3 linked regions of the Homo sapiens genome follow. The protein of the gene in region 3 interacts with the protein of the main gene of each other region in a pairwise test. Each region holds a gene or a part of one and is shown on either strand. Other genes may lie near its edges.

Region 1 (3,156 bases), on a different chromosome or scaffold from region 3:
TGGCTGGTGCCATTGCACTTCTGATCTAAAGGCTGTGGGAGTGGGCTGGGCATGGTGGCTCACACCTGTAACCCCAGCACTTTGGGAGGCTGAGGCGGGCAGATCACCTGAGGCCAAAAGTTCGAGGCCAGCCTGGCCAACATGACGAAAGCCCATCTCTACTAAAGATACGAAAATTAGCCGGGCATGGTGGTGCATGCCTGTAATCTCAGCTACTCGGGAGGCTGAGGCAGGGGAATCGCTTTAACCTGGGAGGTGGAGGTTGCGGTGAGCTAAGATCGTGCCATTGCACTCCAGCCTGGGCCACAGAGCAAGACTCCATCTCAAAAAATAATAAAGGCTGTAGGAACCCAGAAAGGGGCTGGGGGTATTAGGTTTTTCTAGACCCTCAATACTCAAAGTGTTATCTGAGGGCCAGCGCACCTGGGAGCTTGTTAAAAATGTAGAATTTCCACCCTGCTCCACACCTCCTGGATACTCAGCCTTTGGGGTTGGGGCCCGGGAACTCCTGGTCATAGAAGCACCATGGAAGGTGACATCTGCTGAGCATGAACCACATGACAAAGACTATCACCTCAGAGCTGGCAAATAAATTGGGCATCCCTGTCCCAAAGATCAGGCAATTGAGGAACAAAGGTAATGTAACCTGGAGAGGGTCACAGGCAGAAAGTGCCAGGTTGTATTGGCATAAGGGGAGTAGGGGCTGAAGTCATCCTAACAAGCTCTAGGCTGTGTCCCTCAGCCTGGCACAGGCTATTCCCCCTCATGCTGGGGACAGAGTGGCCAGTGGCAGTAAGTCCTGCCTGGGAGTTCTGGTGTAGACCCTGGTCAGTCCCCAGAAGGAAGATATTGGACCTGAGGGTGTGATCCCTGGAGATAGGCCAGTCCTCTCGCCATGGTCACTGGCCCAGGAATGCACCCAGGTGGCTGGGCCTGGCCCGAGTGTGCCCAGCTCTGGGCAGTGCTGCCATTCCCTGACCAGCAGGCCTGCTGCCCGCTTCTTCCTACAGGAAGGGAAGCCAAAACCATCGACCAACTTCTGGCTGATGAAAGCCTGAAGAAGCAGAATGAATACGTGGAGGTAGGACCAGTGTGAAGGGGGCCATCCCCAAGAAAGAGCTGGTGCCGCAGGTCTTGCAGGAAGGTTTCCACCCACCCCTCCTGAGGGGTGAAGTGTTGGGCGGCGGGGGGCAGCTGCCTGCCACCCTTTCTTCCAGGTCTTGATACAGGCCCAGGTCTGGGGCTAGAGCTGGCCATATGCCAATGTAGGGAGACTAGAGGAGTAAGGAGTTAGGTCTCTGGAGTCAAACACAGCACGATGTACCTTTATGCTTGGAAGAGGGCTGGAAGTGGGTAACACAGCTTTCTATGGTGTCAGATGGCTGAGGACCCAGGGTGGGACAGGGGCAGGGAGGAGCGCCATGGCATGTCGGGACCGTTGACAGATATTACTTGCAGATACTGTCAGAGGGAGTTTACTTTGCTATGACTATGCAGCTGGATCTTTTCCCCCAAGCTGGGAAAGCCCTGATTATCCAGGTTCCTAGCTGAGAGCCAATGATGGCCCAAGCATTTTGCGAGATACCTCACTACAAACCCTGCAGATAGCCCTATAAAACTACAAACCCTGCAGATAGCCCTATAAAGTAAAACACCTCTTACATATGAGGGTAGTGAGGCACACAGTAAAACCGCTAGCCCAGGACAATCATTTGGGAAAATGAGTCTGAACTCCCAAGTTCATGTGTTGCTCATTATACTCAAGCTGCCTGGGGTCCATTTCCCGGAAAATGACATAGCTCCGCAGCCTCCTTGAAGAAGCCGGCTCCTCACTTCCGAGAAGCTGAGTATCAGACTCAAATAGACGAGGGACTACTCAATGCTTTCTGGATGAAGTGGCCCATCACAGCAGTCCCGAGGATGGTGTTCAGGGTCACCAAACTTCAGAGATCTTAGAAGTGAATCATTGGCTATAAGAAGCAGAGTCTCCCCAACTTGTAGAAGGAGAAGCTTAGGCCCAGAGAAGGGTAATTTCTTGGCTGAGGTTGCATGGTCAGCAAAACTGCTTCTCTCACTGGGTCCTTAACATTCCCAGGAATGTTCCCAAGGAATGTTCTATGCCCCGCACAGTGCATGGGTACCCTGTTTTGCAAGAACAGCCCCCCTGGCATAGCAGGGTGGGTGCCAGCCAGGCATGGGGCTGAGACAGCATCTCCCAGCCCCTGGCGACAGCTTAGGTGTGTTGGGTATGTGTCTGAAGCCTATTTCAAGACCTAGGGAGACAGGTGTGTTGGGTTATGTCTGAAGCCTATTTCAAGACCTAGGGAGATGCCTGGGTATTGGGCTCAGCTGGTCTGGGTTGAGAAGTGCCAGACGCTGTCTAGCCATGGGATCCTGGACTAAAGACTAGGCCATTCCTGAGCCCCTACTTCCCCATGTGAAAAGGGAACTGCCTATTTCGTAAGGCTGGTATGAAGTGTGAGGCTCCTGGCACACAGCAAGTGATGGGGATGGTAGTGGTGTCAGGCCATCACCTACCTTCAGTATGGAAGGAAACTGGTTTTAATTCCTGATGAGCTCTCCTTGCTCCCCCGCCCCCCCCCCCACCCACCCACCCACCCACAGAAGTGCATTCACCTGAACCGTGACATCCTGAAGACGGAGCTGGGCCTGGTGGAACAGGACATCATCGAGATTCCCCAGCTGTTCTGCTTGGAGAAGCTGACTAACATCCCCTCTGACCAGCAGCCCAAGAGGTCCTTTGCGAGGCCATACTTCCCTGACCTGGTGAGGGGCGACTGCGCATCCCTGGGTGGGGGAGGGCCTGTCCAGGCAACACTGGCTGCCACCTCACTGTGCTGGACTGCAGATATGGTGGACAGCAGATAACGGTACCTATGAGGAAATGGGAGGGAGACCCCTTCTCCCCCATCTCGGTTAGGGACGCCCCACCCAGAGAGCAAGTGTACAGGGCCTGAAGGCTTGGAGGTTCCCCAGGCAGTTACTATGGGCCAGGCCCTGGGCCAGGTGCTTTAGGAGCCTCAGTGAGCTGCGCCCCCAGTCTAAAAGGGTGAACCTGTGAGGCCCACTTCGGATGGGGTGCTATGCAACCCAGAGTCGAGGTTGCCGCGCATCTGCCAGCAGCGAGGCCTTGAG
Region 2 (3,654 bases), on a different chromosome or scaffold from region 3:
CACACAGACTCTTAACACGTTTGACCACATAAAATTACTTGTCATTTCCTGAGTATAATTCCATGCTGTTCCCTCTGTCTGGGAGTGCCTTTCTCCACTTGGCCCAAGGTATTCTTCCTTTAAAACAGCTCCCTGAAAATGGCCCTGATCCTCCCCACCCCCAACATCCTCTGTGATCCCAAGAAATATCTAATACATGAGTTCCCAGGGCACCAATGACAGGTGTGCCTCCTCCAGGACACTGCGGAGTCCCTGCCCACACTCTACTTATTTCAACTTCTTTGCTTCTTTCTGCTCATCTGCTTTCTCTCCTGCTCAATTACTTGCTAAATGGCAAAGGACACCGAAACCCCTCTTCCAAAGGTTGTAACTGTTATAGCCAATAGGCACACGAGCTCTGTGTTTCTACAATTTGTAGCCAAATACTTTTCTTTAAAGGGCTGTTAGCCCAGAATGAGTGGAATAAGCCCTACCTATTTGCTCTTACCTTTTCTATGTCTTCTACTAGCCTGTCTCCTTTTCTTTGAGAGAGAATATAGGGTAGGAGAGCTCCAGCCTGACTCCAGTCAGGACCAGAGGGAAGTGAAGTGACCTCAGGCAAGCCATGCTTTCAGTTTCCTCAGCTTCAAATAAGAAGAGAATGGACCTCATGGATAGCACACTTACTGCAGTGCCTGGCATGTAGCAGAAGATCAGTAAATGTTATCTAATATTTGTTCCCTATACCTTAAGCTGCCAGTGACATCCTGATAATGACCCCTGAACTAAAGAGTTTACCAAGCCAGAGTGCAAACAGCAGTTGCTGCACAGGATAAGTGGTTGTAGACAAAATTACAGTAATAATGGAATTATAGTCAACTCGTGACAATAGCATGAACTACACAAAATTTGGCCTTCTGATATAACTTTCTACTTTTCTAGTCAATAATTTCTCCATTAATTCAGAATTTATAACGCTTAAATTTACCATTTACTGTTTTTTTTTTTTTTTTTTTTTTTTTGAGACAGAGTCTTGCTCTGTCGCCTAGAATGGAGTGCAGCAGTGCCATCTCGGCTCGCTGCAACATCCAACTCCTGGGTTCAAGCAATTCTCCTGCCTCAGCCTCCCGAGTAGCTGAGATTAAAGGTGCCCACCACCACACCTGGCTAATTTTTGTATTTTTAGTAGAGACAGGGTTTCACCATGTTGGCCAGGCTGGTCTTAACTCCTGCCCTCAAGTGATCTGCCCACCTCTGCCTCCCAAAGTGCTGGGACTACAGGTGTGAGCCACCGTGCCGGGACCCTAAATTGCTGACAAAAACAAAAATTAATAAGCACAAATTCAAACAGAGTTCTATTTAAGATATATTTCCTTTTTTTTTTTTTTTTTTTTTTTGAGATGGGAGTCTCGCTGTGTTGCCCAGGCTGGAATGCAGTAGCACAATCTTGGCTCACTGCAACCTCTGCCTCCCAGGTTCAAGCGATTCTCTTGCCCCAGCCTCCCGAGTAGCTGGGATTACAGGCACATGCCATCATGCTGGCTAATTTTGTATTTTTAGTAGAGACGGAATTTCACCATGTTGGCCAGGCTGGTCTTGAACTCCTGACTTCAAGTGATCCACCTGCCTCAGCCTCCCAAAGTGCTGGGATTACAGGCGTGAGCCACCACAGCCAGCCAGTTATAAGAGAAATTCTCAAAACATTTTTTCTTTTTTTTTTTGAGACAGAGTCTCGCTCTGTTGTCCAGGCTGGAGTGCAGTGGCGTGATCTCAGCTCACTGCAAGCTCCACCGCCCCCGGGTTCACGCCATTCTCCTGCCTCAGCCTCCCGAGTAGCTGGGACTACAGGCACCCGCCACCATGCCCGGCCAACTTTCAAAACATTTAACTGTCGGGCAGACACAGTAATCCCAGCACTTTGAGGGGCCAAAATGGGAAGATTGCTTGAGGCCAGTGGTTCAAGACCAGCCTGAGCAACACAGCAAGACCCTGTCTCCACGAAAAAAAAAAAAAAAAAATTAGCTGGGCATGATGGCACACACCTCCAGTCCCAGCTACTACTCAGGATCACCTGAACCCAGAAGGTCAAGGCTGCAGTGAGCTATGATCATGCTACTGCATTCTAGCCTGGCCAGAGTGAGACCCTGTCTCAAAAAAAACAAAACAAACATGTAACTGTTCAGGAACTATATTTACATATCATTTGTGTGTTATTACCTATTCAACAAAAAAAATTTTTACAAAACATTTTGCCAAGCTACTGGTTACTGCATGTACATATCTGAAAAGAATAAATGACCCACTTGTGGCTGGGCGCGGTGCTCACGCCTGTAATCCCAGCACTTTGGGAGGCCGAGACGGGCAAATCAGAAGGTCAGGAGATCGATACCATCCTGGCTAACATGGTGAAATCCTGTCTCTACTAAAAATACAAAAAAATTAGCCAGGCGTGGTGGCAGTCGCCTGTAGTCCCAGCTACCTGGGAGGCTGAGGCAGGAGAATGGCGTGAACCTGGGATGCGGAGCTTGCAGTGAGCCGAGAACACGCCACTGGACTCCAGCCTGGGCGACAGAGCGAGACTCCATCTCAAAAAAAATAAAAATAAAAAAATAAATGACCCACTTGTAAAATAGCCTATTAAGTCAGAAAGGGAATCACTCAAATTAGTCCTATACAATAAAACTATGTATTTACATTTACTCATCACTTAATGTCAGATTAAATATGTGTATATGGCCTCCCAAACTGCAGAGCGCAGTAAACAGATCAAGAAAAGAGAGTATGGCCAGGCGCAGTGGTTCACGCCTGCAATCCTAGCACTTTGGGAGGCCAAGTTGGGCGGATCACCTGAGGTCAGGCGTTCGAGATCAGTCTGACCAACATGGAGAAATCCCGTCTCTACTAAAAATACAAAAAATTAGCCAGGTGTGGTGGCACATGCCTGTAATCCCAGCTACTCGGGAGGCTGAGGCAGGAGAATCGCTTGAATCCGAGGCAGAGGTTGCGGTGAGCCAAGATTGTGCCATTGCACTCCAGCCTGGGCAACAAGAGTGAAATTCTGTCTCAAAAAAAAAAAAAGGGGGGAAAAGAAAAGAGATTATGACTTTTTTTAATTCCTCACCTACTTCAGGACCTAATACGGGATTTCAGGCAGCTGGCATTGAACAAATTTGGCTAATGCAAATTAAAATCCAGTTTCAGAAGCTCCTTGGAGCAGTCCTACAGGGGGAGGTGAAAGAGAAAGGGTGGAATGCCCATGGATAGTTTGGCCTGGGTTCCTGTTCACAAAGTGACCACACATGATATGATGGGTATGGTTAACTAGGAACTGAGGAGATGGAAAGGACAACAGGACCTCACAATCTCTGCTAAAAATGCAGGGACTAACAGCTAGGCAATGTTACCAATGCAGTGATCCCCATGCTAGACTGGGCTTTTTAAAGATATTCTCCTACTCACTGATTCAGAAACTCTAGTGGTAGGATCCACTGTATTTTTGAAAACCTCCCCTAGTAATTCCAACAATCAGGCAGGTTTAACAATCTTTGTGTAGCCAGGCACAGTGGCTCATGTCTGTAATCCCAGCACTTTGGGAGGCCAAAACAGGCGGATCACCTGAGGTCAGGAATTTCAGAACAGCCTGGCCAACACGGTGAAACCCCATCTCTACTAAAA
Region 3 (2,937 bases):
TCAAGTCCAGTCAAAACCAGTTACGGCCAGTCTAAACCAGTCAATTTAATTGCATTGTTTTGAGACAGGGTTTGGCTCTTTTCTGGAGACAGACAGGCTGGAGTGCAGTGGTGAGATCTCAGCTCACTGCAACCTCCACCTCCCAGGCTCAAGCAATCTTCCCACCTCAGGCTCCTGAGTAGCTGGGACTACAGGTACAGGCACATGCCCCCACACCTGGCCAATTTTTGTATTTTTAGCAGAGACGTGGTTTCACCATGTTGCCCATGCTGGTCTCGAATTCCTGAGCTCAAGCGATCTGCCTGCCTCGGCCTCCCAAAGTGCTGGGATTAAAGATGTGAGCCACCACACCCAGCCTTAAGTGCATTTTAAAGTTTAAGTATAAAACAAACTTATTTTAGGTCAAGATGTTATATAGATGATGGTGTAAGTGATATGCTGTGGGGGCTGAAATTGTGAGGATTAGAGTCAAATGGCTGAGGTTTGAGGAACATGTTCCTGGGCAAACCCAGCTCCCAGCCTCTATCCCCTCAACCCCCACCCACACAAGCACCTCACATCTTGGTTTGTTCAGTCGACAGTTCATTTTATTGATGCCCACTCCAGGCTGCATAGGGTTGAGGGGTGTACAAGAGGAGAACCAGATTCAGTCCATGCCTGGAGGTTAGTCTGGGGGGCCGGCGGGATGGACACACAGACAGACACATAGATCTGGCATCTGATAGCAGGGCATACAGTCTCATGTAGGGGCACTCTGGGCACAGGTAGTCAGGAAGGACTTCCTAGAGAAGTCCTCACAGGGGGTGGGGGAGCAAGGAGCAAGGCAGCCATCAGAACCTTCGCCTTTTGTACATTTGTAGGCAGGTGACTTTTGAGACCAGTGGAACCAGGGTGAGCACAAAGGGCTGGGGTCTGGGAATGGCAGGCAGCAAGGGCTTCCCTCTCGCCTCGTCATCCCATAGTGGGGAAGCCATCTCCCCCACCCCCAATTCTTGGCCTGTACTTTGCCTTCTGCCACATGGGCCCTTTCCTGGCATCCACCTCCGTGGTTTTCAAGGCTTCCCTGAGACAATCCACGTGGACCAGGTGCTCTACCCAGTGCCTGGCACCTCATCACCACCCCATCAATGCACATTCTTGTCCTAAGTGCTATCTACGGACTATCTAGATCTTGGTTCCAGCTCTGAGTGGTGTCAGCGGTCATGACACCCCAGGTCAGGGCCCCTAGCAACCGCAGAGCTCCCAAGAGCCCTAGGTACCTTCACTGCACTGTGAAGGCAGAGCTTGGTCCCAGCCTACCTCCAGGGCTGGCCAGCTCTGCACTGCCTTCCTCTCACTGCTCAGTGGCCCATGGACACCCACTTCCCTTCCAGTGGCATGTGGGCATCCACTTCTCAGATATGCAGCCCTGAAGAAGAGACCCTACAGCTCTTAGGGCCAACACTACCCAGCACTGTAAGCACGAGCAGAAACCAGCCTCAGCCCGTAGCCCAGGGACCCCCTTTCTTTCACTAGTACAAAGTTTCTGTGGTTGGGGAACCAGCTTCATGTCGGGCTAGGCACTCTGGCCTCTGATGTCTGCCTGCTCTGGGGTTGCTTCCCCATACCTTTGGGGCAGCAGGGAGGAGGCCTGCAGCAGACCCCTCAATCTCCAGGCAGAAGCAGGTGCAAAAACAAATATATTCTGGGGCTGGGTTGGGACTCACCCCTTGGACCTCCTTAATAGGCCATGAATCCCAACGACAGAGAGTCTTGATGTTGAAAAACTATTTCTGAAGGTGGGTGGGGGTTTGTAAGTGCAACCCACAGATGGGGCTGGGACAGGGAAAGGGGACTCCTGGAGTCGGTCCTCACCACGGCCACAGCCCTGAACGTAGAGCAGGTAGGAGCAGGTGGGGGCAGGTGGAGGCAGGCGAGGCCCTGGCAGTCATTCTCGACAGGAGGGCAGCAGTGGGGGAGGTGCATGTAGCTTCAGGCCCCCTCAGTCAGTCTGGCCTCAGACTTCTAAGGGCTAGAAGAGGTATTTGCGGCAGGACTCAGTCCCACACTTGCATTCAATACGGACCCGCTTCTTAGGGGAGCCAGGGAGCCCAGCCAGGCCAAAGTTGGAGTCCATGCGGGTGCTCTCCATGTCCACGGGGTCCACTGTGGAGTCACAGCCAGGGAGGAGAGGAGGGAAGGAGGCAGGGAGGGAGGGGGAGAAGGAGGGAGGGAGGAAGGTAGGGAAGGAGGCAGGGGACTTGTTAGAAGGCCTGGATGAAGGGTCCCACTACCCTTTATACCATGAGACCAAGGATCTTTGGGGCTGGGAGCAACTCTGGGATTTGAGTTGGGAGATCTTAGGGTTGGTGGTTTGGGGCTAGGGCCAGGGCTCAGCACTGGAGGTTGTTCAGGCCAGGGGTTGAAGAATGCTGGGGGAGGCAGGGAGCCGTCAAGGAACCAGGAGGGTCGTTTTAGGTGTGTGGGGGGGGGCAGGGGCAGGAATAGAGGGCCACCTGGGCATCCAGAGGTACATCTGAACTCTCCTGCCAAAGACCTGCCCTTGAGGGTCTCAGAGGTGGCTAGCTTATCAAGGAGGGGACTGGCTGGAGGCCACAAGGGTGTCCAGAGGCTTGGGATGAAGAAGGCCAAAGGGAGCTAGGAGTGGGGAGGGGCTGGGGGATGAGGGAAACTCAGTCAAGACTGGAGTCAGGAGTTTCTTAACTCTCCAGGAATCTTGGGAGAAGTTGGTATGAATGCCTCAGGGTTAGGGTTCAGGGGCTGGGAATGAGGGGACTCGAGGGGTAGGCAGGGGTCTAGTAGTCCGAATGGGGGACTGGGAGTCAGGAAGAGCATCTTAAAGCTCCCGCTAAAGAATTTTCCTTGGTTCTCTGAGTGACTGGTGTGCCTTTGGGAGGGGTCCTTGTGTCCCAAGTCACAGTGCGCCCCTGCCCCCAG

Evidence for each region.
Region 1: the proteins of SUV39H1 (region 3) and PADI6 interact in binary tests that used the Homo sapiens proteins (3 or more experiments, as listed by UniProt).
Region 2: the proteins of SUV39H1 (region 3) and TRIM41 interact in binary tests that used the Homo sapiens proteins (3 or more experiments, as listed by UniProt).

Annotation. Positions count from the first base shown.
Region 1 is NC_000001.11:17,396,061-17,399,216, forward strand, and holds part of PADI6 (inactive protein-arginine deiminase type-6), read left to right. Parts: intron 1-1,010; coding exon 1,011-1,081; intron 1,082-2,625; coding exon 2,626-2,787; intron 2,788-3,156. UniProt on the Homo sapiens protein: Structural constituent of cytoplasmic lattices, which plays a key role in early embryonic development. Cytoplasmic lattices consist in fibrous structures found in the cytoplasm of oocytes and preimplantation embryos.
Region 2 is NC_000005.10:181,226,281-181,229,934, reverse strand, and holds part of TRIM41 (E3 ubiquitin-protein ligase TRIM41), read right to left. Parts: intron 1-3,654.
Region 3 is NC_000023.11:48,706,645-48,709,581, reverse strand, and holds the end of SUV39H1 (histone-lysine N-methyltransferase SUV39H1), read right to left. Parts: intron 2,146-2,937; coding exon 2,012-2,145; 3' UTR 566-2,011; downstream 1-565. UniProt on the Homo sapiens protein: Histone methyltransferase that specifically trimethylates 'Lys-9' of histone H3 using monomethylated H3 'Lys-9' as substrate. Also weakly methylates histone H1 (in vitro).